Linked DNA regions of Homo sapiens: regions 1 and 2 are each linked to region 3. Evidence: fine-mapped expression QTL. A gene starts in region 3. Each other region holds a variant in brackets. All regions are shown on one strand. Distances are between the middles of the regions.

What was found. PIP is the estimated chance that this variant, and not a neighbour inherited with it, causes the effect.
Region 1: its variant is fine-mapped to the expression of LRRC20 in whole blood (TOPMed, PIP above 0.99). The same link has a PIP of 0.9 or more in prefrontal cortex.
Region 2: its variant is fine-mapped to the expression of LRRC20 in fibroblasts (GTEx, PIP above 0.99).

Annotation. Positions count from the first base shown.
Region 1 is chr10:70,298,075-70,300,918 of GRCh38, forward strand. It overlaps LRRC20 (leucine rich repeat containing 20), which reads right to left. Exons shown (of 5, transcript NM_001278212.2): 5 at 901-2,844. Among named protein-coding and RNA genes, the nearest start is that of NPFFR1, 15 kb to the left of the region's middle. The variant G/C (reference allele first, on the strand shown) is at 1,676.
Region 2 is chr10:70,005,668-70,008,511 of GRCh38, forward strand. LINC02636 (long intergenic non-protein coding RNA 2636) reads right to left here. Exons shown (of 5, transcript NR_184066.1): 1 at 2,088-2,844; 2 at 1,790-2,002. Among named protein-coding and RNA genes, the nearest start is that of LINC02636, 2.2 kb to the right of the region's middle. The variant G/A (reference allele first, on the strand shown) is at 1,650.
Region 3 is chr10:70,381,198-70,383,697 of GRCh38, forward strand. It overlaps LRRC20 (leucine rich repeat containing 20), which reads right to left and starts at 1,428. Exons shown (of 5, transcript NM_001278212.2): 1 at 1,352-1,428. RefSeq lists enhancers at 639-1,258, 1,103-1,302, 1,833-1,932 and a silencer at 1,333-1,702.

The DNA.
Region 1 (2,844 bases), 83 kb before region 3:
TGGGCTCATGCCTGTAATCCCAGCACTTTGGGAGGCCGGGGTAGGTGAATCACCTGAGGTCAGGAGTTCAAGACCAGCCTGACAAACATAGCGAAACTCCATTTCTACTAAAAATACAAAATTAGCCAGGCATGGTGGTGGGCGCCTATAATCCCAGCTACTTGGGAGGCTGAGGCAAGAGAATCTCTTGAACTGGGAGGTAGAGGTTGCAGTGAGCCGAGATCACGCCATTGCACTCCAGCCTGGGCAACAATAGTGAAACTCCGTCTCAAATAGTAATAATAATAATAATAATTAGAAACAATGGAGCATCTGGACTAAAACTCAAGGCAAACTTAAGCTGGCCTCTCAGACTTAAGAAAAGCAAAACCTGACTTTAACATTGAACCCAGAGCAGTAGTTCTCTAACTTCAGCAGGCATCGGAACCACATGGAGTGCTTGTTAAGAGTGCTGGGCCCCATCCCCGAGTTTCAGATTCTGCACATCTAGGGTGGAGTCAACTATTCGCATTTCTAACTAACTTCCTGGTGCTGCGGATGCTGCTGGCCCAGAGATCCCTCTTTGAGAACCATGGACTCAGAGGAACAAATTACTAAGGGAATAATTTCTGGCACTGGTAAGAGAGAAATGTGGAGATAGTGGGTCTCTTCATCCTTTCCCAGATACACAGTCTCCCCCTGATGTTTAGCCATCCTGCAGTAACGCAGCTGGGGGGCACGCACCAATTCTGCTTGGCTGCACCTGTGCCCACCTGTGAATAATCCACGTTTCATCCCGTTCTAGCCTTCTTTACCTCGTGCTTTCAACAAGAGGGCACCCCTCTTGCATGTGGGCTGGTTTGACGCCCAGGCTATAGGAGGTCTGTACAGTGAGAATGAATCAAACACCAACCAGGCAGATGAAACCAATGCATTCTTTATTGCAGACTGAAGCTTAGGGGCTCACTCACTGTGAGCTCTGATTTGGGGGCATCTGTGGCTGCCCACACTTTCCAAGACAGACAAGGGCAAACTCTCCAAGCAGAGGAGAAAACAACTTCCAGAAGCTGCCCCTTCAAAGGCCTGAGGTGAGGACCTGGGGCAGCAGGCAGCTTGGCATGCAGGGGTTAACCAGAAAGGCCGGGTCTGGAGGGCTGGGCACACCTAACCCTCATCTCCTGGTGACTGCAGGTCACACTCCCTTCTTCAGGAGTGCCATGCAGACTCTGGAACAATCTAACAGGCCAAGTGTCTCCCAGGGTGGGTTAGGGAGGAGGCTGAGCACAGGCTCAGATCCCTGGAAGTGGCAGGGAGAGAACTGAGAGAAACTTCACCCTCTGCTCGGAGGACATCCCCAGCCTAGGTCCTTGCTTCTCAAACTCTAAAGTGCTTATAGGAATCAGCTGGGGGTCTTGCTAAAATGCAGGGTCTGAGTCGGGAGGTATAGGGTGAGGCCTAGACTCTGCATTCCTAACAAGCTCCCAGGTGTCACTGCCGCTGCTGGTCCACAGACCACACTTTGAGTTGCAAGGCTCTGGTCATACATTGTGTTTGTGCACATCAGAGAAGGATGCCTCTTCTTCAACAAGGAGAAACCCCACTCCAGGGCACAAGGCAGGTGGGGCCAGCGCAGCCTGCACAGGACTTCAGCCCCCACTTGCCCCCAACACCCACAGATGAACTCGGTAGCTCTGGA[G/C]ATCCTGTCTTGACCTCCTCATCCTGAAAACCCTTTGCCCAGAGTTTGACCAACCAGGCCTTGGGATACGAGCAGAATGAACAGAGTCTCTTGAGATACTGAGCGCTCAGTGATGGCCCAACAATGGCCCGACCTATCAGTTCCTTCCCAAGAGACAAGAGACCTGGGCAGGGACGAGGGAACTGGGAGCATTCTGAGCAGGGATTACTGCTCTGAGCAGTGGTCTGAGCTCTCAACATCTTAGCCTTAGGAGTAGTAAAGTGGCCACTCGTCCACGGCACACAGGATTTGGACGGCCTGGCTTTGCCTCAAGCTCTGGGGCCTCAGGTGTCTCTGGAGATGCAAACAAAGATGCAGATCAGGTGGGGTCTGGGGCACTGAGTTGGCTTGCTCCACAGATGAGGAGAAGGTGGGAGGTAGATACCTGAGGACCAAGCAGTCAAGGTTCTTCAAGCCACAGGCGTTCTCGGGAAGCAAGAGCCCCAGGCCCTCTCCTGGTAGGGGACCAACCATCCCCACTTGCTGGGTACTGTCCCAGTTTTAGCATTGAAAGTTCCATGTCCTGGGAAACCAGGACAGCTGGTCACCCTGTTGCCTGACCATACCCTAAGATGCCAGGTTGAGGGCCTCAGAAGAACCAGGTCATCAGGGCTTTGGGCGTTGGCCTGGGAGCTGGCTGGCTACAAATCCCGTGGTCCACATCGCCTTCTGCCCCCAGGAGGCCATGACAAGGCAGCCAGGCTGCTGCTGGACTGGACAGTGGTGAGGGTGGCCATCTAATCACTTTAGACAAGAGCTGCAGGTGTAACTGACTCTGCTGTTCTCTGGGCCACCTCTCCCGCAGCTCAGGAGTGATGCTAGAGGGACGGAGCACTCAGGACTTCCCACCCCGCCAATTTGTTAACTGTGGGGAATGACAGAGCTGACGTGACTTGCTCCCCATTCCCAGCCTGCTGGTCCTCGGGCTCCTACATGAATGTTCTTGCCCTGCAGCAGTGCCAGCCCATATTCCCACCACAGCTCTCCCAGGACTCCTAGTTCAGGTTCCCACCAGTCCAGGGACCACAGGACTGAAGACTGGGCCCTGCAGAGGGCCGCATCCAGGTCAGTTCTCAGGAAGCAATAAATAGATGGAGGTTGTCTTCTCTTCTCAGGGCAGCAACTGGCTC
Region 2 (2,844 bases), 380 kb before region 3:
AGAATGGCTCTAATTTAAAAGATCGATAATTACAAGGGTTGGCATGATGAGGAGAAACTGGAACCTTCATAGCCTGCTGATTGGAATGTAAAGTAGTGCCACCAGTTTAGCAAAACAGTCTGATAGTTTCTCAAGAGGATATAGTTACCATATACCTAGTAATTCCACTCCCAGGTATATACCCAAGAGAGATGAAATATACATTCCCACAAAAATGTGTACACAAATGTTCATAGCAGCATTATTTATAAGAGCCCAAAAGTGAGGGGGCAGGGGGACAAATGCCCATCAACTGATGAATGGATAAATAAAATGTGGTATATGTTTACAATGGAATATTATTCAGCCAAGTAAAGGAATGTAGTGCTGATACATGCCACAACATGGATGAGTTTTTAAAACATTATGCTAAGTGAAAGAAGCCAGACACAGAAGGCCACATATTGTGTGATTCCATTTACATGAAATGTCCTCATTAGGCAAATCCATAGAGACAGAAGCAGATTAGTGGTGGCCAGGGGCTGGGGGGGCAATAGGGAGTATGGGTTTTCTCTTTGGGATGATAGAAATGCTCTGGATTTAAATAGTTGTAATGATTGCACAAATTTGTGAATATACTAATAACCACAGAATTATACACTTTTAAATGGTTAACATGGTGAATTTTGCTATGTGAATTTTATCTCTATTTAAAAAAAAACTGTGGACAATATTTATCTCAAAATCAGGTGACAAGGTGAGTGCACACATTGCCAAAACTCACTCAACATAACACTTAAGATTTGTACATTTTGTTGTTTGTAGATTATACCTCAATTGGAAAAAAATGTTGGGTGTTAAGCTAGCCCCACAACATCAACATACACTTGGGGACAAAACCTTAGTAGCCACAAGACCTGCACTAGCATTGGTGCAGAGGAGAGCAGAGAAAAACAATGGGACACATAATAAACCTGAAAACAGGAGACCCCCAAAATATCCAGTAGGCATTGGTTGGAAAGTATATGGGTCAGTTTTAATTTAGCACCTGAAAGAGAGTGCTTTACACAATCCAATGGCTAGTGAGTGCAAGGGGTCCCCAGTAAGATATGAAGGACCAGAGGCAGTCAACTCTCCGTGAATTCTCAAAATTGACCTGCCTCCCTCTAAGGACAGGGCCCCACCTTGCAGGACAATGGAGGTGAAGAAAAGAGAAGATCCACATGAAAATAGAGGAGATGAACAGAGCCACAAAATCTCAGCAAGGACATCACTATATTTTTTAACACTTCACAAAACACTCCTTGAAGAGGGAGCTCTAGCAAGTTAGCAAAGCCACTCTGCATCATAGCTTCTTCCAAAAGTTTAGGAAATTAATTTTGCATGAAATCGAATAACAGAAAAGCATGCACATCAAAGTCCATATAAAGTTATTATAAGAAAAAAGATCACGAACAAAATAACATTCCTACAGATCATGAAAATATGCCACTAAAATAGGTCCCAGAACTGATCAAAATGTAATCTTCCATTTCAAAATGAGCTAAGTGGCATTTTTAAATGATATAACACATGCAATAACATAAGTAAGAACTAGAGCAACTCAGAAATGCAGCGACAGCTCATCATTAAAAACCACATACTGGTGACAGGTGTTTCGACAACTGTTC[G/A]GCTGAGTCTGCTGCAAAGCCGTGTGGTCCGTAAGGCCGCTGGGAGTTTTTCTTTGTTCTCCTGTTCTTTGTTCCCAACAGCAGACCCAGGTTGTTGGACAGAGGGACCTGAGCTGAGCAGCAGGTATTATCTCACTCACCTTTACAGACAGCAGCAGCAGGGTCCAAGGTGAGGGTGGGTTGCAGGGCTGACTGTAGTTCCAAAGCAAGCTGGGTTCTTCTGAAAAATGACAGCGTCTTAAGTCTACAGAGCTGCCTCTAGCAAAAGGTTTGTGTGAGTCCGTGTATGCTGAGCTTTTTGTTGTTTTTTTAGATAAGAAACAGAAGAAAATCATCCCAGATTCTGTCATTCCCTGGAAAGAGAAGGGGAATTCCAAGTTTCTCAGAGGCTCTTTGGGGTCACTAGCCAACCACCCACATGTAGGAGTTAACACCTACCATCACTGGAGGTTTCAAAGACCTGGCTTGGAGAACATGCAGGGAGGAGGGCCGGGATGTGCCCATGCAGAGTCCCCTTGGTGTCACCATGGGCGCGTCACAGCCAGTCAGGCTCTGGATTCTACACCGTGTGTAGCATAGAGAAGTAACTTCTTGTTGTCATTCATTACTACCTTAAAGAACTGGAGGAATCATCTCCTAGGAAACAGTGCCATGTTTGTGCCCAGCAAACAGTGCCCAGGTGCCATCTGGGAAGGGGCAGTTTTATTGAAAGATGTCTTACTGCTTATTCTAGAGTTTTTAGCAACTCCCCTTCTTGCCTCCACCCCCCAGACCTTACTTTTTACCAGCTTGTCTTTTTTTCTTCTTCTTTATCCCAAAGGTTTTAACCTCCAGTCCCTTCTTGATGCCCACTTGATGGAATTCTCCAGCACCATCTGCCCTTGTTCACTCATCTGCTTTTCCTTCTCTTCTCCCTGCAAGCACCTGATTACCATCCTATGATGACTTCTCTCCACTCCCACCCTGCCCCCATGGTCCAGTTATCCCTGGATGAGTGTGGATCTGCTAAAGCCACACACATTCATCTCTGCCTGTACACTTTAGACATACAGTCAGACCCCCACTCACACTTAATTTGGGTGCACATTATCTGTCAATAGACGAAAAAGAGTTTTCTCATTTTGAAATTTAACAGAACAGTCAGGGATACTATTACAAAGTCAAGGTGTACCCTTTGGGTGAACCTGCTGTCAGA
Region 3 (2,500 bases):
ACCGGATTATTGTGGGAAGTAACTGATATGTAACTTTTGGGAAAGGACTTTGCGAACCATTACATGTTTCCCACACCAAGGCATTACCAGTAGGTAATCAAACAGGTGTAGAGAGGAAGTTTGGATGTAATAAATTCAATGCCAGACAAAAACGTTGTCCTGCTTTGGGGGAGCTGGCAATACAGCCCTCCTGTCCCTATAACCTGGTTTCACCTGGACTCAGGCTGGCTGGGGGAGGGGTGATTTTTGCTTAAACCCTGACCTGGCCCCCTGACTCCAGCCCTTACCATCAATAACTCTACCTTATCTGCAGTCCGGAGACCTCTGCAAAGGAGCCGCTGCGACAGCCCGTCCCCACCATCTGCTCCTATATTTAGTTACTGGTGTTGTCAGTTGGGAACGTTAGAGCCTGGCAGGGGCTCGGATGGGCAACCGGAGCCTCCGGAGCCATGTGTGCAAGCTGGCCCTACCGCTGGCTCCAGCCCGGGCTCTGGACCATGCCAAGCCGGGGAGCGGGTGGGGAGGTGAGGAGCGACCCAAATAGTCCCAAACCCCCCTTCAGATCAGAACGAAGTTGACCCACTTCCCCACCCCAGGGAAAGAAGCCCGCTGGGACGTGAGCGGGACCTGCTGGCGCCTTGTTTTTGTGGCATGGGGTTCGGGAAGCTCAGCGCGTGCTCCCTCGCTAACATCTAGGCATCCTCGGACTGAGCCTCCAGCACTACGCGCGGTAGCCAGGCAAGGGTCCCCCAGCCCCGCGTGCCAGGATCCGCCTCACCCCCGGTGCCTGCAGCCAATGGCACCTCGTCCGCTGGCCCGGCAGGCGGGGACTGGGAGAATAAAGCTGGCAGAGGGAAGAATGGTAGTGATCGCAGAGGCCCCGGGGCTCCCACGCTGCCCGGAGGCCGAGAGGCACGCTCTGGAGCAGGCGTCTGCAGCTCCCCAGAGCGGAAGCAAACCCCGAAAGTGTCGCTTCGGGGACGAAATGCACAGCAGCCTCTCCAAGCAAGGGCGCCTCCCGCGAGGAATGGAGGCCCGCCTGGGAGCGGTTCTCCGAGCTCCCTATTCCCTGGCACCTCTGCACCCACTCCCCTGAACCATCGGGGTCCAGGTGCAGTGAGCAAGCAAGAGCCCGCGCATGCCGAGCCCCTTGGCACCGCCAGAGCCTCCGCTGGTGCACCGCTGCTCTTTTCCACCGGGTGACCTGGGGGAGGGGAGGGGACGCTGCAAAAATCGGAACACTTCTCGCCCTCTCTCCCCCAGCCCCTGCAACGCTTGACCTCGGACTACATTTACTTTGCGGGGCAAGAAGCGTGTGGTCCCGCTCCGGGCCGCTTTTGGCTCCACTTACGGCGACAATGCCTCCTAGCGCCCTGCGCAGCGCAGTCACGCTCCCTCCGCCGCCGGCGGCGCCCCAGGCGAGTTCCGAGCCGGCGGGGCGGGGCGCGCGGGGCTGCGGGATCTGCGCGCGCGGCCACTCCGCCAATCCCGGCGCCAGGACCGGCGCCGCGGCGGGAGCAGGCTGGGCTCGGGATGCGCTCAGCCAATCAGTGGGGGAGCGGCGCGCGCGGGGGTGGCGCGCGGAAGGGCAGCCCGCGCGCTCCCGGCCGCAGGGAGTAACCGCTTTGTGTGCTGCTTCTAGAGGGAGAACGCCTGAGGGGGCGGAGATACAGAGTGGGACGCGCAGTACATCCCAGGATCTCTAGGACCGGGGCTCCAGATTGGGTTTTCTCGAGGGAATGGAGTTGAATTAGCCAGATCAGGGATACTTTGAAACACGTGAACATGGAGCATAGGGAAATTTTCCTATGATGACTTCGGGTGCCCATTGAGGTTTTTAGTATATGCAAGGCCCTGTGTCTCGGCCCTGCGTCTCCAATCCTAATGTTCTCATCTATAAAATATGACTTGAGGGCGGGGCGCGGCGACTCACGCCTGTAATCCCAGCACTTTGGGAGGCCGAGGTAGACGGATCACCTGAGGTCGGGAGTTCGAGACCAGCCTGGCCAACATGGCAAAACCCCCGTCTCTACTAAAAATACAAAAATTAGCCGGGCGTGGTGGCAGGCGCCTGTAGCCGCAGCTACTCGGGATGCTGAGGCAGGAGAATCGCTTGAACCCGGGAGGCGGAGGTTGCAGTGAGCCGAGATGGGCACTCCAACCTGAGTGGACAGAGTGAGACTCTGTCTCAAAGAAAAAAAAAAGAATATTTAATTCCGCCTCTAGGGGGTCTAGGCAGTCAAAGAACACACATTCCCTTGGGCCTCGATGGATGTTAAGGGTTACTTATGCCCTCTCCACCCCCAACAATATGTTAAAGTTCATCAGAATGTGATCTTATTTGGAAGTAGGGCCGTTGCAGATGTAATGAGTTAAGGTCATGCTGGAGTAGGGCGGGCCCCTAATCCACTGAGACTGGTGTCGTTGTAAGAGAAGAGACACAGAAGAGACGCACAGGGAGAACCACCTGTGGTGATGGCGGCAGGGATCAGCTGATGCA